Regions from separate parts of the Homo sapiens genome. Here all the other regions are linked to region 4. The links come from fine-mapping of genetic effects on gene expression. A gene starts in region 4. Each other region holds a variant in brackets. All regions are shown on one strand. Distances are between the middles of the regions.

Evidence for each region. PIP is the estimated chance that this variant, and not a neighbour inherited with it, causes the effect. A credible set is the group of variants that fine-mapping cannot tell apart.
Region 1: its variant is the best candidate, but not a certain one, in a credible set for the expression of EGLN3 in whole blood (INTERVAL, PIP 0.81).
Region 2: its variant is the best candidate, but not a certain one, in a credible set for the expression of EGLN3 in whole blood (INTERVAL, PIP 0.87).
Region 3: its variant is the best candidate, but not a certain one, in a credible set for the expression of EGLN3 in whole blood (INTERVAL, PIP 0.71).

What each region holds. Positions count from the first base shown.
Region 1 is chr14:34,006,199-34,011,351 of GRCh38, reverse strand. The region is part of intron 5 of LOC102724945 (a long non-coding RNA gene); the gene reads left to right. Among named protein-coding and RNA genes, the nearest start is that of EGLN3-AS1, 31 kb to the left of the region's middle. The variant C/G (reference allele first, on the strand shown) is at 2,961.
Region 2 is chr14:33,922,550-33,927,702 of GRCh38, reverse strand. EGLN3 (egl-9 family hypoxia inducible factor 3) reads left to right here. Exons shown (of 5, transcript NM_022073.4): 4 at 670-743; 5 at 1,781-3,476. The coding sequence ends at 1,812. Among named protein-coding and RNA genes, the nearest start is that of EGLN3, 26 kb to the left of the region's middle. The variant G/A (reference allele first, on the strand shown) is at 2,176.
Region 3 is chr14:33,698,545-33,703,697 of GRCh38, reverse strand. All of the region lies in intron 6 of NPAS3 (neuronal PAS domain protein 3), which reads right to left. Among named protein-coding and RNA genes, the nearest start is that of SNORA89, 7.8 kb to the left of the region's middle. The variant C/A (reference allele first, on the strand shown) is at 2,836.
Region 4 is chr14:33,948,344-33,953,496 of GRCh38, reverse strand. EGLN3 (egl-9 family hypoxia inducible factor 3) reads left to right here and starts at 2,423. Exons shown (of 5, transcript NM_022073.4): 1 at 2,423-3,101. The coding sequence starts at 2,745. RefSeq lists a silencer at 2,286-2,365 and an enhancer at 2,486-2,655.

The DNA of each region.
Region 1 (5,153 bases), 58 kb before region 4:
AGACAACTGATAGACAGCAGTCCAGTGTTGACACAGAAACTGAGAGACGTGGAAAGAAGGCAGTGAGCAGACACTATGAAGCAAGTAATGACTTCAGTAGAAGAGGATATGAATGGAGGCATAGAAAGGCATCTGCTAGCAGAAGATTAAGAAGAAGCAGCAAGTAGAGAAAGGACTCAGTGGAGGAGATGCTTCAGAAATGGCAGGCTGCTGGAGAAACTGCTGCTTCATCCTGAACCACGTTCCAGTTCTCCATGAGGCCTCACATGTAGCCCCAGAAACCATTTTCTTTGCTTCCTCAAGCCTCCTAAGTATCTTTATCCTGGAGTAAACGAGAAGGTCTCCATATTTTGCAACTTGAAAAACCCCCGTTCTAAAACGAGCAGGTTGTCTAGAGAGAACCATGAGCGTCCCTTCTGTTGTAATTTGAGAGGAGTATTGTAAAAAGACACATAGACCACCTGTGGGGAGCTTCACATGGTGGCCAGTGCTTTGCTGGGGTGACCACAATTCAGTTCTTGTTTTTTGCATTGTAGCTCTTGAAATTTGATTTAATCTGTGCAGCCAGTGTTGACTTACCCCAACTAGGAGATTTATAGATAATCTAATATGCAGATGTATAATGTGAGGCCAAACTTTCCAGACATAGGGATCTCTTTCTATAGTTTTTGATACTGTTGAATATCTTCTTATCAAAACTCTCGTTAGAGTTTTTACCGTTTTTCTTTTTTTTTTTTTTTTTTAGCATTACTTCTCTTTTTCCACTTTTGGGACCAAAAATATATCTAATTCTTGCTGTTTGTCCTTCATCTGCCTTTATTATCTCCTTGTTCTCCTTGGAAATACCCTCCACTGCCATGGTTCTCCTCTACCCCAGTGATATCTATCCATACAGCCCTCTCCACTCTAACACCCTGCCATATTTTCAAATCTCCAGGGGACATATTCACCTGAAAATCTCATCAGCCTCTCGAATTTAATGAGTTCAAAATGGAAATTATTTTCTTTCTCCGCAAAATTCTTCCTCCCGTGTTCCAACCCCTTCTCTAAAAATAGAACCTCAGTGAGCCAGTCCAAAGCTCGGGATTCTTTTTACTTCTTTTGCAACTCTATACCCAATAGCTATGATCACAAAGTCCTGGCAATTCCACCTATATAATATGAATTTCATTCATCTCTCTCTGTGTTCATTACGCAATGTGCATAGCAAATTGTGCCAAAACTTGGCAGCTTAAAATATGTCCATTATTTCATACAGGTTGTGAAGGCTGGGAATCTGAGAGTGGCTTAGCTTAGCTGATCTCTCATGAAGTTGTAGGCAAGTTGTTATCTGGGGCTGCAGTCATCTTAAAGGTTGACTACGGATGGAGAACCACTTTTAAGATCACTCATGATCAATGCCATTTTTTATAGAATTAGAAAAACTGGCCAGGCCGGGTGGCTCATGCCTGTAATCTCAGCACTTTGGGAGGCTGAGGTGAGTGGATTGCTTGAGCCCAGGAGTTTAAGACCAGCCTGGGCAACATGGCAAGACCCTATCTCTAATATTATTTTAAAAATTTTAAAAACTATTTTAAAATTCATAGGGAACAACAACAAAAAGAGCCCAGATAGCCAAAGCAATCCTAAATGAAAAGAACAAAGCCAGCAGCATCACATTATTCAACTTTAAACTACACTACAAGGCCACAGTAACCAAAACAGCATGGTGCTGGTAGAAAAATAGAGACATAGACCAATGGATCAGAATAAAGAAGGCAGAAATAATGCAGCATACCTGCAACCAATGGATCTTCAACAAAGTCCACAAGAAAAAGCAATGAGGAAAGGACTCCTAGTCAAGAAATAGTGCTGGGAAAACTGGCTAGCCACATGCAGAAGAATGATACTGGACCCTTATGTTTCACCATATACAAAAATTAACTCAAATGAATTAAAGACTTTGTAAGACCTCAAACTATTAAAATCCTAGAAGAAAACCTAAGAAATACTCTTCTGGACAATGGCCTTGGCAAGGAATTTATGACCAAGTTCTCAAAAGCAATTGCAACAGAACCAAAAATTGACAAGTGGGACCTAATTAAACTAAAGCTTCTGCATAGCAAAATAACCCATCAACAGAGTAAATAGAGAATCTATAGAATGGAAGAAAATATTCATATACTATGCATCTGACAAAGAATTAATATCCAGAATCTGTGAAGAACTTAAACAAATCAACAAGGAATAAATAACTCCATTAAAAAGTGGGCAAATCGGGAGTTTGAGGTTGCAGTGAGCCATGATCATACCACTGCATTCCAGTCTGGATAACAGAGCAAGACCCTGTTTAATTAAAAAAAAAAAAAAAAGTGAGCAAAGGTCATGAGCAGACACTTCTCTAAAGAAGACATACAAGTGGCCAAAAAATATGAAAAAATGCTCACCATCACTAATTACCAGATAAATGCAAATCAAAACCACGATGAGATACCATCTCACGTTAGCCAGAATGGCTATTATAAAAAAGTAAAAAAAAAACAAAACCCAGCAGATTCTGGTGAGGCTGCAGAGTGGGAACATAAATTACTTCAGCCACTGTGGAAAGCAGTTTGGAGTTTTCTCACAGAACTTAAAACTAAACTACCATTCAACCGTGCAATCCCATTACTGGGTATACACCCCAAAGAAAATAAATCGTTCTACCAAAAAGACGTATGCACTCGTATGTTCATCTTGGCACTGTTCACAATAGCAAAGACATGGAATCAACCTAGGTGCCCATCAATGGCTGATGAGATGAAGAAAATATGGTATATATACATCATGGAAAACTACACAGCCATAAAAAGAATGAAATTATGTCCTTTGCAGCAACACGGATGTGGCTGGAGGCCATTATCCTAAGCGAATTAACATAGAAACAGAAAACCAATTATCTCATGTCCTCACTCATAAGTGGGAGCTAAATCTTGGCTACA[C/G]GCAGACATAAGATGGCAACAATAGACGCTGGGGACTTCAAAGTTTGGGGGGTAAGGGCTGGAAAACTTTCTATTAGGTACTATGTTTACTATTTGGGTGACACGACTAGTAGAAGCCCGAACCTCAGCACCAAGCAAAATATCCTTGTAACAAACCTGCACATGTACTCTCTGAATCTAAAATTAACATGGAAATTAAAGAAAAAAAATCACTCATTGTTGTAAGCAGATCTCAGTTCCTTCCTGGCTATTGGCTGGAGGCTTCAGTTCCTCACCATGGACTTCTCTACAGGGCTTCTCACCACATGACAGTTTACTTTCCCCACTTGGGGAGGGGTAGTGGGAGAGGAGGAGGAGTGGGTTGGGGGAGAACGTATGTGCTCAGGGTGGTAGCTGCAGTCCTCTTTAGAACCTAATCTTGGAAGTCACACACTATTACTTTTACCATATTCTGTTTGTTAAAAGGAAACAGCTAAGTCTAGCCTACACTCAAAAAGAAGGAATTAAGTGAGAAGTGTCCTTATGGACATATTTTTGAAACTACCACCCCCTCTTCTTCATTTCTGCTTCTGTAATCCTCTTTCAGTCCCCATCATTTCTTACCGGTATTTGTGCTTGACATAAAGACCAAGATCCTTAATATCGCCTACAGGGTTCATGTTATGTCTGTTTCTGCATTGCCACTGTATTCTATTTATCTGTCAGTCTGTTTTTCTCTATTCCTGAGTCTTTTTCTCCCTGTCTATTTCACGTTCAAACTCCCCAAGAGAGAGGCATTGATTGGTTCTGGCAATAACTATCTGGTGTCACTCGAGGTCACCTTATGATGACCTGGCGGAGGAGTCTAAAGGAGCCTGTCTTTTGGCCAGGTGTTGATACCTGGCTCAATCAGTGTGGCCAAGGTGGTGGGTAATTTAACCCTGCCTAACACTTTCTTATCTCAAACCACAATCTCCCAGGCCCCTGGTTCTACCTCCACTGGCCTTTTCCCAGAAGGTTTGGAGTGTCATTTCCCCTCTTGCCACAGAGCCTATGCTCGTCCTGTTCTTCTGCCCAGCAAACTCTTCTCTCCAGCCCACTCGGCCCACTCCTGCATATCTTTACATCTCAGCCCGGTGTCACCTCTTCAGCCTGACTTCCTCACCCCTCCATCTACGTTAAGGTGTCTTACGAGCTCTCAGAACACTCTGCACTTTTCCTTCACAACTCTTATTCGTTCGGTTATTTAACATCTCCTTCCTCCTCTAACCTGAAGCTTCCATGAGGGCAGGGACCATTTTGCCCACAATGTCTGGCACTTGCTATGAACACAGTGATTATTTAAAACACAGGGAATAATTAGTGTTTCTCCAACATTCATGCTTCTCCCTGGCTCAAACACTCTTGGTGGTCCTCTAGCGCGTGCAGGACAGAGCCACAGCTCTTTGGCTTGGTATTCTTGGCCCTTTGGGTAATCCGGGCCCATCTTGCCTTTCTGGTTTCAGTTCTCAGCACTCCTTTTAACAGACCCAAAAGTCTTAACTGCAATGGATTAGTTGCTATTTCCAAAGCGCTCTTTATGCTTTACTCTCTGAATCTTTGCTCACATTGTGCCCTGAATCCTGGAATGAATTCTCCCCACTGGGATTATATCAAAATCTCTTTCTAGAAAAACTTTCACTGTGTTTTTTGTATATTGCTTTTTTTTTTAAAATATAAACAAAGTACTAATTTTAAGAACTTTTCTTACATTAGTTCATTTAATGATTATGACAGCCTACAAGATAAATCCACTTAGTATTCACACAAAGCTTAAATAACTGGTACGGATAAACACCTAGTATGTGTCATAGCTGGAATCGGAACCCAGGTGGTCTGGCTCCAGAGTGCAACTATGGAATCTGCATACTTTCTCTGCTCCTAGACTCTTACTCTTTGAGGGTGGAGGGGGTGTCTTATCCTTCATTTTTTTATCTCCCCTAGGGGCTCACTCCAAGTAGTTTCTAACTAATGTTTAATAAATTAATGACTAGAAACCAGTGCCTCAGGCAGAAAATGATGGAGGAAAGCTGCCTCTGTTCACAAAAAAGCACCTCGTTTTTACTTCTTTGGTTACAAACCCTCAGTCCTTCCTCCCTGGCTTTAAGTATGTAGTTTAATAACTAATGGTATTTTTTTCCTTTTTATGTTCTAAACTTTTTATTATGGGTATTT
Region 2 (5,153 bases), 26 kb after region 4:
GCAGAATGACTCCCTTCTAGTCCTTTCTGTAGAGGCTATGTTTACCTGTTGCATTATTGCAAAATCACCTGTCTCCCCTACTTGGAGCCTGAGATCGCAGAGGAAGATCTGATCACAGGGTCATTTGAATTCCTAATGCCCAAGATAATTTCTGGCACATACCTGGAATTCCTTATGCATTTTATTACATTGAAATAGAATTAAAACCAGAGAAGTTAATTTTAAATTAAAATCAGCGTAGACAGGCCGGGCATGGTGGCTCACACCTGCAATCCCAGCACTTTGGGAGGCCGAGGTGGGCAGGTCAAGAGATCGAGACCATCCTGGCCAACATGGTGAAACCCCATCTCTACTAAAAATTTAAAAATTAGCTGGGTGTGGTAGCGTGCACCTGTAGTCCCAGCTACTTGGGAAGCTGAGGCAGGAGAATCGCTTGAACCTGGGAAGTGGAGGTTGCAGTGAGCCGAGATCACGCCTCTGCCTGGCAACAGAGCAAGACTCCATCTCAAAAAATAAATAAATAAATAAATAAATAAATAAATAAATAAATCAGGGTAGACTTCTAATAATAGAGAAAACTTTAAAACTTTTAATGTGAGATTTATAGGACATTTGTGTTTCTAGTAGTACCATTAAATCTCTTTCCTTATATCTGCTTATCTTTCACAGATATGCTATGACTGTCTGGTACTTTGATGCTGAAGAAAGGGCAGAAGCCAAAAAGAAATTCAGGAATTTAACTAGTATGTGTTTGATAATTTTCTGTGACTTTTGATCAAGTTAATCCTTGACTTTTATTCAATTTTATGTAGTTTTAAACATGTTCTGTTCAATCTGTTACGGCTTAGCTTTATATATAATGACATCTTGATGGGTTTTATCCTGAAACCTTGGCCTTAGGGCTCTTAGAAAAATCAGAAACAATGCAAGGGGCTTCCCCTGAGAATGCCCACTGAATGTATGATGGTTTATGATAGATGGGAAATAGTTAACTTTTTCCTATTAATGTTAACCAGTCAAATGTAACATTAAATTTTGCCCATGATTTTTGGCATATTGCAAAGGAAATATAATGGAACCCAGTTATGATGGCAAAATTTATTATATTGGGTGAGACTGTGACTCTCAGTATAACAGCAGGGCTCATGTAATATAAACTGAATATAACAGCACTACTCCTATCCCTTCCAACCAGTATTAGAAGGCAGCATTTCCCAAAATACGTTGCATTAAAACACAAATCCTGCCAATTTGGTAAATTCCTGGTCCCAAAAATGTGGGAAATGTTGCATGCTGTATGCCTGTCTTAAAAAGAGTCACATTGCTCACTAGCATATTAAATTAAGGCGCTAAGAGATCCTGCAGTAAGGAAACATATATAATATTGCCTAGCCCATAACCCATTTGGACTGTATACCTCTCAAATACCAAAGTGGTCTCCAAATTGCACCCAGGAAATCTCAGTTTGTTTTCTCTTCCAGATGGCCTACACTGCTTAACTCTGATATGTGAGTGAGGCTACACTTCATACAACTTATGCTCAGCATTAGCCCAAGAGGTGCCAATGCTGGATGTAAACCCAAAGTTCCTCCACAGTCTGTGAGGCATATGGGAAAGATCCCATTGCAAAGTCAAGAGAGAATCCTTTGGCAGAGCTCTATTAGGAGGCTTATATAAGATGGGAAGTGTTTACTGGAGGCTTTTTGGTGACATTTGTGACATAAAACTCATCAGAGCTGACTCCATACCCTCTTTATTCTCCTTTCTGTCCCCAACCCAGGGAAAACTGAATCTGCCCTCACTGAAGACTGACCGTGCTCTGAAATCTGCTGGCCTTGTTCATTTTAGTAACGGTTCCTGAATTCTCTTAAATTCTTTGAGATCCAAAGATGGCCTCTTCAGTGACAACAATCTCCCTGCTACTTCTTGCATCCTTCACATCCCTGTCTTGTGTGTGGTACTTCATGTTTTCTTGCCAAGACTGTGTTGATCTTCAGATACTCTCTTTGCCAGATGAAGTTACTTGCTAACTCCAGAAATTCCTGCAGACATCCTACTCGGCCAGCGGTTTACCTGATAGATTCGGTAATACTATCAAGAGAAGAGCCTAGGAGCACAGCGAGGGAATGAACCTTACTTGCACTTTATGTATACTTCCTGATTTGAAAGGAGGAG[G/A]TTTGAAAAGAAAAAAATGGAGGTGGTAGATGCCACAGAGAGGCATCACGGAAGCCTTAACAGCAGGAAACAGAGAAATTTGTGTCATCTGAACAATTTCCAGATGTTCTTAATCCAGGGCTGTTGGGGTTTCTGGAGAATTATCACAACCTAATGACATTAATACCTCTAGAAAGGGCTGCTGTCATAGTGAACAATTTATAAGTGTCCCATGGGGCAGACACTCCTTTTTTCCCAGTCCTGCAACCTGGATTTTCTGCCTCAGCCCCATTTTGCTGAAAATAATGACTTTCTGAATAAAGATGGCAACACAATTTTTTCTCCATTTTCAGTTCTTACCTGGGAACCTAATTCCCCAGAAGCTAAAAAACTAGACATTAGTTGTTTTGGTTGCTTTGTTGGAATGGAATTTAAATTTAAATGAAAGGAAAAATATATCCCTGGTAGTTTTGTGTTAACCACTGATAACTGTGGAAAGAGCTAGGTCTACTGATATACAATAAACATGTGTGCATCTTGAACAATTTGAGAGGGGAGGTGGAGTTGGAAATGTGGGTGTTCCTGTTTTTTTTTTTTTTTTTTTTTTAGTTTTCCTTTTTAATGAGCTCACCCTTTAACACAAAAAAAGCAAGGTGATGTATTTTAAAAAAGGAAGTGGAAATAAAAAAATCTCAAAGCTATTTGAGTTCTCGTCTGTCCCTAGCAGTCTTTCTTCAGCTCACTTGGCTCTCTAGATCCACTGTGGTTGGCAGTATGACCAGAATCATGGAATTTGCTAGAACTGTGGAAGCTTCTACTCCTGCAGTAAGCACAGATCGCACTGCCTCAATAACTTGGTATTGAGCACGTATTTTGCAAAAGCTACTTTTCCTAGTTTTCAGTATTACTTTCATGTTTTAAAAATCCCTTTAATTTCTTGCTTGAAAATCCCATGAACATTAAAGAGCCAGAAATATTTTCCTTTGTTATGTACGGATATATATATATATAGTCTTCCAAGATAGAAGTTTACTTTTTCCTCTTCTGGTTTTGGAAAATTTCCAGATAAGACATGTCACCATTAATTCTCAACGACTGCTCTATTTTGTTGTACGGTAATAGTTATCACCTTCTAAATTACTATGTAATTTATTCACTTATTATGTTTATTGTCTTGTATCCTTTCTCTGGAGTGTAAGCACAATGAAGACAGGAATTTTGTATATTTTTAACCAATGCAACATACTCTCAGCACCTAAAATAGTGCCGGGAACATAGTAAGGGCTCAGTAAATACTTGTTGAATAAACTCAGTCTCCTACATTAGCATTCTAATGGTTTGATTAATATATTCCATCTTTGGCAGGAAGGGCTTGCTAGAATTTTTACACACATCTTTTTAACATTGTTGACTTACACATTTACGCTAAGAGTTTTAGAACGCTTTGGTCATAGTGTTGCTTCGTATTTGTATACCCATGAATAGGTCATTCACTGACCACTATGAATCTGAAAATTGAACAAATTATATTTTGCCCTTCCATATCCTAGAAACAACATTAGTAAAATAACATTAGTCTCAGATAGGACAGAGTGAATTCCCCTTTCGAACAATCTTGAAAAATTTCAATAGGAAAGAAAGGACGAAGTTTATTAGGAATTTTGTATTCTGTAAAATTGTAGTTATATATTTTTCATGATTTCTAATGTCATAAGAATGATAGTGACAATATTCTGAAGGAGGATCATATAGTTCCAAAAGCATGTCTTGTATTTTTCATTTTAGTCAATATGCCAAAAGATCTGACCTCCAAGGCTTTGTTTATTCCTTCCAGACAAAGGTCCTATAAGCTAACAAACCACTTTTTTTATGTGCACTGATTTTTTTTTTTTTTTTTTTTTAATGACTCAATTTGAGTCCTGGAAAATTAAGCTGGAAAATACAACTTTAATGCTAGGAGTCTGTTTTTTGCTCCTCTCTTTGACAGCCCATTTAGGGGAGGAGTTAGCCCTGCTAAAGAAACATTATTTGGCAAATAATCTGATCAATTTCATTTATATTCCCGGCAATGAAATATTAAGAGCCTACCTCACCATTATGTCACTTATATAGTCCAGAGTTCTTGGTAGGAGATTAAATTTTGAACCAAAGATCCAATTTCATGGAAATAAAAAGTCTTACCTAAGTGCATTAGATAGATCCTTAGTAGAGTAGTTAATACCATTAAATGCTGGACTGTCAGAATCATGAATTATCCATTCAGACATGATTTTGTTTTTCTTTAACTCAGGTTTTTTAGAGGCTGGGTCGTCCTAATTTCTTTTGGCCATTCAGTACTGAAATTTCCTGTGTTTTAGAAAGCAATGATGGGAAATGCCATGCTGGGCCAGCAGTTTATATAAGATAGGAGTTTGGATATGTCAGGTACTTATATATTTGATCGACTACGAGGACAAGCAGAAGGGATATTCTTAGTAAAGTTATTTTTTAAAACGATACAACATTGACTTAGCTACAGTCTTGAATCTTTTGAATGGCATGAAGAGTTGGTTAGTAAGGTGGTTAGAAAGTATTGTTAGAACAGAATAGAAATAAACTTTTCTTTTTTGACACAGAGTCTTGCTCTGTCACGCAGGCTGGAGTGCAGTGGCGCCGTCTTTGCTGACTGTAACCTCTGATTCCCGAGTTCAAGCAGTTCTTTGCCTCGTCCTACCGAGTAGCTGGGATTACAGATGCCCGCCACCACACCCGGCTAATTTTTGTATTTTTAGTAGAGACGGGGTTTCGCTATCTTGGCCAGGCTGGTCTCAAACTCCTGACCTCGTGATCCACCTGCCTCGGCCTCCCAAAGTGTTGGGATTACAGGCGTGAGCCACCGTGCCCAGAGGAAATAAACTTTTCAAATGAAGCTGTCTATAGTTGAACTCTGTTGGATAATATATGCTGGTTTATGTTAAAGACCCAGTCTACTTTCAGACCCCATCTACTCTCATCCCAAT
Region 3 (5,153 bases), 250 kb after region 4:
GCTATTATTATTGTTGTTGTTAATTTTATCATCATGTATTATTGCCTCCCATTCATGATAGTTGTAGATTTTAACCATTATAAATGATAACATTAAAATTTAAAACCAGAATTTTCTTAACCTAGAAAGCAAGTCCCCTGATCCTGGAAAAATTAAGACTTATGAGAATAAATGAATAAATGAATGAGTCAATGATTTATTTAAGAGACAGGGTCTTGCTCTGTCGCCCAAGCTGAAGTGCAGCAGTATGATCATGGCTCACTGTAGCCTCAACTTTCCAGGCTTAGGCAATCCTTCTGCCTCAGCCTCTCAAGTGTCTGGGACTATAGGTACATGCCACTAAGCCTGAAAAATGTTTTCAAAATTTTTTTTTTGTAGAAATGGGGGGTCTCACTGTGTGGCACAGGCTAGTCTTAAACTCCTGGCCTCTGGCAATCCCACCTCACCCTCCAAAAGTGATTGGATCATGGGAATAAGCCACTGCTCCCAGCCAAGGGTAATTTAATATCATAACGCTATTCATTAGAACATGTATCTTTTGACTATAATTTTGCAAGTTCTACATTAAACAGTACAGGAATTCTTCTGCCCCAATCCTCTTCCCCCACCCCACCTCCAACTAATGCGATTTCCAAAGGAAATATATTGACTCAGGATGGAGTTTGCATTTCATTATCTGCTGTATTAAACTAAAAGTCCTAATTCAATTGGAAAGTTTGATATATATACATAAAGCCATATAATGTGGCTTATATCTTCTAGCTTAAGTGGAAATTGTCAGGTGGATATTTCACACCCAGAATGATCAACCTAGGGCTTATTTTCAAAGAAGAGAATGTACATCAACTCGCACCCCCAGCTCCCTCAATCCTTACTGACAAGAGTGGTTGTAACACAAGTTTGCCATTCAGGGAGCTGATTCTATTCTCACTCCTTGTCTAATGTGGGTTAGATGAGGTCTCTATCTTCTTGCCCTCCCACCCTCTCCCCTTCAGGTTCCACATACATATCTAGAACAGGAGCCAGACAAATGATAAGTTACTCTTAAAAAGATAACCCCTGTAATTATGAGTCAATCCATTGAATGTTAGTGTTCTTCTAGGTTATACATAGAAAAGTCATGTCGACCATGAAACAGGTCTCTGGATTCAGAGTCAATCCACTTTCCTCACATGGACCCAACTTCTGTTTTTCAGTTCCCTTATTTGATAAGTAAGAGCTATTAACCTCACAAAGTATTGCTATTTGTGGTATATTTATAGAATAATTTGTTAGGATTATTTGCATCTGCACTGAAATTGGTTTTGAGTTCTTTCCAACTGGAGAGATCCATCAAAAGCACTGAAAATGACTGAAAATGATAGGAGTATGTTCCAAATGCAATAGAAAGCCACTCTCCCACCAATTGCATTTTTGGCTGAATTCCCTTCTTACATAGCCAAGATAATTCTGTCCAAGGGACAGGGATAACTATTGATACTGGGTGAGAGCAATAACTGGATGACCAATACCATTTGCATGTTTAAAGAGAATTTGAAAGAGCATCACAATTAACATGGAACAGAGGACAGCCTCTCTAGAGAGTTACTTCTGAAAGGAACTGAAAATACTCCTTTTAGGCACTTTTCCAGAAAGTTCTCCAGTTTTTATCTTGCATCTTCTCTAGAAGGCTGAACAGTTTGACAATCTACTTTTTTTCTACCACAGCATCTCAGTTTAGTTTTGCTTCCTATATAGTTGGTTCTACATCCATCTCTTGCTAGATTGTAAGATCCCTGAGGGCAGATACCATTTCTTATTCATCTTTGTAGCCTCCAAAGCATTTGGTAGATATCTCTGCACACAGAATTTGGGTTAAATAAACAAATGAACCAATGACCTAATCACAAATTGTACCTCATGGGCAGAGACTGATTCAGTACGAACACTGGAAATACTCAAAAAGTTGTTAAATGGATAAATGAATGAATGAGTGAAGGAACAGGCCTTTAAAGAGTTGCTCTAAATACTCCTGTGTAGAAATTGTAAGACAAAAGGTGGCTGGGAGTGGAACTGTGTCTAAATATGAAGCAAACCAAAATTGTTATAACATTTTCCCCACTCTCTAGAAAAAATTAAAACAAATTAGTGACATTAATGAAAAGCCAAGGATCTAAAAACTAATGAAGGATTCTACTGAAACAGTAATTCCCACTGTCTTTTGGAGCCAGGGTCCACTCTGAGAATTTGAGCAAATCCCTTTTTCAAGAACAATGACTCACATCCATACGCAGTTTTGCATATAGTGTTCCTCTCAATATGGGATGGCCAAACAGACCTGCAGGTTAACAATCTATGCTTTAATAAGGACAGACTTTGAAGTTCAGGTTTAAACCATGAGATCAATGATCAGGCAAAGTTATGCATTTCTCTGTTTTTGAAGTTTTCTCATTTGTAAAATGGAAATAAAAAAGACAGTCCTAACCTCACAGGGTTGTTATGGAACTCAGATGGACAAACATGAGCATGTATTTGAAAATACTTGGTAGGCTGTGCAGCACCATATTCATGAAAGGTATTAGAGTGCTGATGCTTCCTTGCACTAGGACAGGGTAGGTAATGGAACCCACAAATCAGCTACTTCATTCTCCTCTCCTCTCCCCTTTGTTTCACGGACGCCCTTAAATTCTTTGTTCACATGCGTGCTTCTCCTACTAGCCTATAAGCTCCACTAAAGTCAGGAATGTAATTGTATTCATTTGTATCTCTTTTTCCTCCAGAACCTACATGGTGCTTTATCTGTACTTGACAATTAAACAACATTAAGAAACATATTTTGGATAGTAGCGAAATCTT[C/A]CACACTGGGTTTAAACGTGTGGTGGAATGAATTGCAGGGAAGTTCAAATTTATACGTGGATTGGTCAGACCAACCCCATTTCAATAAAATACTGTGTTCAGAAGCACACTTGCTTTATAAGTCCTGGACGCAATCACTATCTAGAGAAGGGGTGATTTATTAACTAGCTAAAACATCCTCACTGCTATAGGATAAGCTTTTCAGCCTTTACCTCCATTTGTGAGCAACTAAAAATCAAAGAACGAATAAAATCCAATCACCCAGAACTTCTTCCTGTAGACAGACTGAATTATAACTTTTTAATTTAGGCAGGTAAAGAATTATTACCGTAGGACTCTAGGGCAGGAATGTGTTAATAAAATCATCCTCTCTGCCTTTTCATTTAAAATAATCCCTTGAGCTGATTAAATGAAATATCACTTGTTTAATAACTGACAGAACATTATTTTTAAGCACAAATGTTTTGCATATTTTCGCTCCCCATTTTTAATTCCAGGCACAGGAGGGTGGAGGCACTGACATCACACAAAGGGAGTTGAGCTCTGTGCTCGGATGCAGTTTGCCCTGTCATCGTGGCATCTATAATTTAGTGTGAAGCAGCGAGGTAGACAGAGCATTATCATCAGAAACCATTCTGAACAGGGATATAAAACACAGTCGCAATAACACTTGTCAGAGAGGTGACTCCAGTCAGAACTCATATCCATGAGTTTCAAGATAAATGCTGACACGGCAGCCATCCTACAAAGACTATTATTGCTTTTAAAAAAACAAGCCAAACCCCCAAACAAAGCAAACCCATGAACCTTCCCCAGAGGGAACAAGTTAGTATGAAGTTTGCATCTGGGGTGGCATAAACTTTCCATGATTTACAGTAAGCATATCCCTTCTCCACTTGGATAGGGTATTTTATGATGCCACAGAGGAAGGATCCAATAGCATTTTGGGTTTAATGATGTTAAGCTATTTGGAATTCTTTCCCCCCTGTTATTTGGAATATATGAGCTGTGCCCCTAAAACAGGTCATTAGCTGTGCCGTGTACGGGTTCATCGCCTCACCCACAGGACTGCTCAGCTGCTGCTTGCATTTTCCCTGTCTTCTACATTTAAAAAAAAATGTCTTTGACTTGGTACTGGGCTATGATTTAATAACCCTGTTCTGCTGACTTCATAAGCTGTGAAACCTTGGAGAAAAATCCCAAATCTGAATTACAGTTCTAATTACTCTGGCCGAGGCAAAGGGTTTCAGCATTGAATGTTCTATTAGTGCCCATTTCACATTGAGTACTATTTGTTGCCAGAGGTTACAGGGCTGCATTCTGATTCGCTTTTCTCCTCTTCCACGAATGCAGCCACTTTCCTGGCGCCCTTTCTGTCTTCAAGGCTGGAGGAGCTAACTGCTTGGTGATTCCGTGCAAATAATTTTTCCTGAGCTCCCAGAACTTACTCAGAGAGTGCGCTTCGGTTTCAGAAAAACAGATCTATTGCCAACGCAAATTTACAATTTAGCAGGGTTGTTTTCATCACAAAAGGATCCACCGTGATATAAAAATATAATTAAGAAAATTATTTCCCTTTTACTTAATTGGTTGGTTTTAATTAATGATATTTATTTTAAAATGATTTATTATTCCAGCTTTTAAATGTTTGATATTTTCTAGCAATTAAAAACGTTAAAATGAAAGTTAACACATGCACATGTTTTTTTTTGAAACGTTAAAACAGCACAGAAGGGTATACAGCGAGAACAAGCCTTCCTCCCAACTCTCACCTGAGATTTCCTAGGGTCTGTCTCACAGGCCACCTCTGTGTTTCCTATGTGTCCCTGCAGAGATTCTTGTCCACATGCCAGCACATGTGGCTGTACCTGCTTTCACTTGGTACATAAATGACAGCAACCAATATGTGTTCTGCCCCTTTCCCTTTTCTGCTGGATAGCTTGAAAACTGGGTTCCATATCTGGACATGTACATCCTCAGCATTCTTTTAAATGGCAGCATGATATTTTGGCCCATGGTTTACCTTCATCCTTTATTTAGCCAAGTCTCCACTATTGATTAACTATAGATCAATTCAATTGAAAATTACAATGGAGATTCTTATAAATATTCTTTGTGCAAAGGATTATTTTAAATAGGGAATTCTGCTGGAATATTTCAGTTTCCTTTGTGAAACCTGTCTGAGGAAGGGAAGTATGTCAGGGGCTTTTAAAGCTAACGTTTAGGGGAGGGTATTACTAATTCAGAATGACCTAAAGAGCAAGGTGGATGTGGAATGATGAGAAAGTGTTTAAGTTCCAAAAATGTGATTTATCTTC
Region 4 (5,153 bases):
GCTGCAATTTTTTTTTTTTAAGGCTAAATTTCACTTTTGTCACCCAGGCAAGAGTGCAGTGGCATAATCTCAGCTCACTGCAACCTCCACCTGCTGGGTTCAAGTGATTCTCTTGCCTCAGCCTCCCGAGTAGCTGGGATTACAGATGCCTGCCACCATGTGTGGCTAATTTTTGTATTTTTAGTTGAGGCGGGGTTTCACCACGTTGGCCAGGCTGGTCTCAAACTCCTGACCTCAGGTGATCTGCCCACCTCGGCCTCCCAAAGTGCTGGGATTACAGGTGTGAGCCACTGTGCCTGGCCCTTTGCTGCAATTTAACAGTCCTCCAGTTTTCACTTTATGTCTCTGGCTCCCACCACTCAAATGTCCACTGCTCAGATAGACAAAGCTGAGAGACAAATGCCCTGTAGAACTCCTAAGTTCTCCCTCCACTGGCCTCTAAGCTTTTGTGCTGGGTCAGGCTAATTTGCTTGACTCTTTTCCAGTGACTTCTCTTTGGGGAGGCTCCCCAGCCCCTTTTGCAAATAGATCCTTCCAGATAAGCCCAGACATACTGAATCCCAAGTGGAGGCTGCTATGGCTCAGGGTCAGACATTGAGTTCCCAGTAACTATTTATTAGCCATTCACTATGTGCTAAACACTGGGGTTCCAAGGATGATGGTCTCCTCTCATCATGGAGCTGCCTTGGGAATTTAGACAAGAGCTCTTTGAGCAGTGATGGCCTTTACCCCAAGGAGGGGTACCTCCTGCTCAAAGGTAATACCAAAGGTGCCAACTAATCACTGACTTGGCAGAGAACCTCTCTCAATATAACTAGAAGTTTCATCAAAGTTTCTTAAGCACTCCACCATTGACTGCTCTCCTTCACCATCCCCCAGGTTCTTACTCAACCACGTGCCTCTGTCTGCTTCTTTCCAACTTGTAGCAGCACCTTTCCTCTTCTATTCTTTGTTCTTGTCCTGGATGTCATTCCCTTTCTCCCCTCAGAGGCAGAGAGGAGAGGGCTGCTGGAGGAAGAAGAAAAGTGAAAAAGCTGTAGAAATTTGCTTCCACAATAAACAATACCCGAAAAACCTGTACATTCTTTTCTTCAACTTAAATGAAGAACCCAAGTGTGCACTCATATGAAGTAAAAAAGGTGCAAATAGGCCGGGCACGGTGGCTCACGCCTGTAATCCGAGCACTTTGGGAGGGCGAGGCGGGCGGATCACCTGAGGTCGGGAGTTCGAGACCAGTCTGACCAATGTGGAGAAACCTCACCTCTACTAAAAATACAAAATTAGCCAGGCATGGTGGCGGGCGCCTGTAATCCCAGCTACTTGGGAGCCTGAGGCAGGAGAATTGCTTGAACCTGGGATGCGGAGGTTGTGGTGAGCAGAGATCACACCACTGCACTCCAGCCCAGGCAACAAGAGCAAAACTCCGTCTCAGAATAAATAAATAAAAAAAATACAGTTCCTTTTTTTTTTTTTTTAAAGAAGTACAAATAGCTTTGCATGCAATTTATGAATTTTTTCCTGATTCTGATCGCTGGTGTTCAGTAGGAAAGGGAATCAAAACTCCATAAAGCAAATCAGCTTATCTGTAGATAACCAAAGTCTTCTCAGTGGTGTCTGTCCCTCTTGTGAAAGTACAGCTGCTTGTGGGAAAAGTGAGAGACCTAGAATACAGTGTATCTTTTGGGGGACATACCTCTGACTGTTACAGAAGCATGTGATTAATTTGGAAGGTAGAATTTCGGAACATCATATTTTAATAGGAAGCTTGAAAGGTAAGTAGAGGAAAACATCAAGCAAAGCAAAATACACCATTTGCAGAGTTCAATCAGATATGACTCAGCATTTCTTCATTGTGCTCATCCCCAGCTCCTCAAGCACATAGTGCCTTGCACACAGTAGGGGCTGAGGGAAATATTCGTTAATGCATTAATTTTAGTTAAAACTAGATACCTCCTAATCTCTCAGTGGCTTGAACTGGGTCAAACAGCAGAGGAATGGGGTAAATAAGGAAAGACACCCGGTAAAGGTAGAACAAGACCACTGCTTAATAAATATATTCGTTTTTGGGGTTATTATTTTGCTCAAAAGTCTATGAGGTGACCAACCCAGAATGTGGCAGTTAATTCTATTTACATTTTCAGTGTGGGATCCAGGTTTTCAAGTTTGTTATGTGATTTTATGCAAAACAATATGCAAATCCAGCGCATTCTAAAAATTCAGTCTGCTTTCCAGCCGCTCCCCTGGTCACAAACAACTAAGGTTGGCGCCGGGCTCTCTGGGATCCTTCGCGGAGGGGCAGAGCAGGCGGGGGTGACTGGCAGCGGGGCGGGGGAAAGGGCGGTCCCGGAGGCGGTCCCGGGGCGGAGCCCGTGACGCGCGGAGTCGGCCGGCTTAAGGGCCGGACCTCAGCGTCTCCCGGAGTCTGGCCGCAGTCGCGGCAGTGGTGGCTTCCCATCCCCAAAAGGCGCCCTCCGACTCCTTGCGCCGCACTGCTCGCCGGGCCAGTCCGGAAACGGGTCGTGGAGCTCCGCACCACTCCCGCTGGTTCCCGAAGGCAGATCCCTTCTCCCGAGAGTTGCGAGAAACTTTCCCTTGTCCCCGACGCTGCAGCGGCTCGGGTACCGTGGCAGCCGCAGGTTTCTGAACCCCGGGCCACGCTCCCCGCGCCTCGGCTTCGCGCTCGTGTAGATCGTTCCCTCTCTGGTTGCACGCTGGGGATCCCGGACCTCGATTCTGCGGGCGAGATGCCCCTGGGACACATCATGAGGCTGGACCTGGAGAAAATTGCCCTGGAGTACATCGTGCCCTGTCTGCACGAGGTGGGCTTCTGCTACCTGGACAACTTCCTGGGCGAGGTGGTGGGCGACTGCGTCCTGGAGCGCGTCAAGCAGCTGCACTGCACCGGGGCCCTGCGGGACGGCCAGCTGGCGGGGCCGCGCGCCGGCGTCTCCAAGCGACACCTGCGGGGCGACCAGATCACGTGGATCGGGGGCAACGAGGAGGGCTGCGAGGCCATCAGCTTCCTCCTGTCCCTCATCGACAGGCTGGTCCTCTACTGCGGGAGCCGGCTGGGCAAATACTACGTCAAGGAGAGGTCTAAGGTAGGACGCGCTCGGCGCCCTGCCGCAGCTGCTCCCGCGGGGACGGGAGGCACTCGGAGTCCGTTGTATGTCGACTTCCCAGGGCCGTAAGCGAACTTTGTTTTTTAACCAAGAAGTCAGCCTGGTTTGTCTCTACTCGCTGCTTCCCCCCACCCCTCGCCCCAGCTCCTCTGAGCGAAAGTCAACGTTAAGGGGCTCAGGTGAACCATGATGATGACCTTCTGTTGACTTTGAAATATTGGCTCTTGTGGGTGACAAAAGCCAGACAAGCTGTGGCTGTGGTCCGATTTTAAGACGAGGTTCTCAAAGATCCAAAGGAGGGAAAGGGTATTGGAAACACTGTGTATCATCTGAGACACACGTGTCCTCATGATCTTAAATGCCTACTTTAAAGCCACCTAATACTGCCCTTCATTGTGGTCAGAAGAGATTTCTACAAAAGCACTCAGAATTCTGGAGGCAGTTGTGATTTTGCCATGTGGCAGTTGGTTTGTGGAGTTGGGCAGGTGTGAAAGGGTAAAACTCCACTTCTGAATGCTGCTTCTGCCCCCTGGGACCCAGCACATTGTTAGACCATCTTCTTGACTGAAAATTCTCTCCTGATGCTGAGCCCTGCACCACCACCTTCCTTTTCCTAACTATGAATTGATGGCAAAGTCCACTCAAAACAACCAGTTAAGTGCTCACGAGAGAGTAGTCAAGCACCTCCAGAAAGAAACCGGGTTTTTGTTCACATAGCAGGAAGTGACTCCCTGGGTGGTAATTTATCTTGGAAACACAGGTAGATTGGCAGAAAAACGGGAACATGTAGGTACCGCGATGTTGGTGCATGTCCATTACTTTGGGATAGGCTTTCTCAGTCTTTCCTCAAATGATAGTTGAGCCAGTTTTCCAGTGGCAATTCTGAGTGACTTGCGCTTGTCTTATGGTGTGGTCAAGGGACGTTCAGAACTACGGAAAACTTTTACTGAAACAGCGAAGCAGAGTATACCGGCATGAGAGGGAAGATGAACACTCACCTATGTACCACTCTTTGACAATAAATATAGTATTTCTCAAATCAGTCTCAAGACTGATCCTGTCTCAGAACAGACCATTGTTCTCTCATTTCTCTAATACGCTGAGAGGAACACTCTGAATAAAGGCTAAGTGGTGAGGATTGGAAACGTGTGGGAGTGAAGGGGTGGAGGTGGATGAGTGCAGTGGGGAGTCACAGTTTGCCGTACAACTTCCAAGCCAAGAGGCCATGAATAGAATATCTGAAAGCATCGTTATTAATGCACCCAAGTAAAGTAAATCTTAGAAGATACTGCTTTCTAAATTTTACTTTGGGGAAAAAAATTCCGCGTGAGCTGAACTCTGTAGGAGATTGATGCTAAAGTGTTTCTTTATTCTTCTTCCATCATGTTGGTGGTGGATTAGTCACTCGTCTTTGACTAGTTTGATTTTTGCATTAAATGACCTTGCTGTCTTCTGTGGTGGAGGTGTGTCGGGGAGGGGAAGGGTCAGCCTCAGTGTTGCTGAGATGCTGGTAGTTTCTACCTGGAAGAGCAGACGGCTTCTTATTGGGTTTTTAAATGTTTCTTGTAAATTTAGGTGTTAGGAGTTTTTCTTCATCATTCTAGGAGCAGAATTTGCTCTGAGGGAGGTCAGGATTAATTGGTATGGAAAGAGGCCACTAACATTGAAAGTTAAATATTTTTATTTAGCTTTGACTTAATGGATAGGGATAGGGTTTCAGACTAGAATTTAACTCAAATGGAAGGAAAAACACTGTGTAAGTTAGGGTAAGGGAAAGAAAGATCCTGTAGATATGATTCATCAATTTTAGGTTATCTTTTGGGTGGAATGAAAAACTTTCCAGGTGACCCTGTCAGAAGGTGATCGTGAATTGAAAATAAAATTTATCCTGTCCCACCCCCAGATTTCCAGGTTTACTTTGGCTGGTTTGTCACAAAGCTCCCTGCCCTTTAGATAAATCACCTTTCGATTGGAATATTCCCTGGCCAATTAGAACCAAATGCAAACCAGGCTTGAGCAAACAACTAGTGT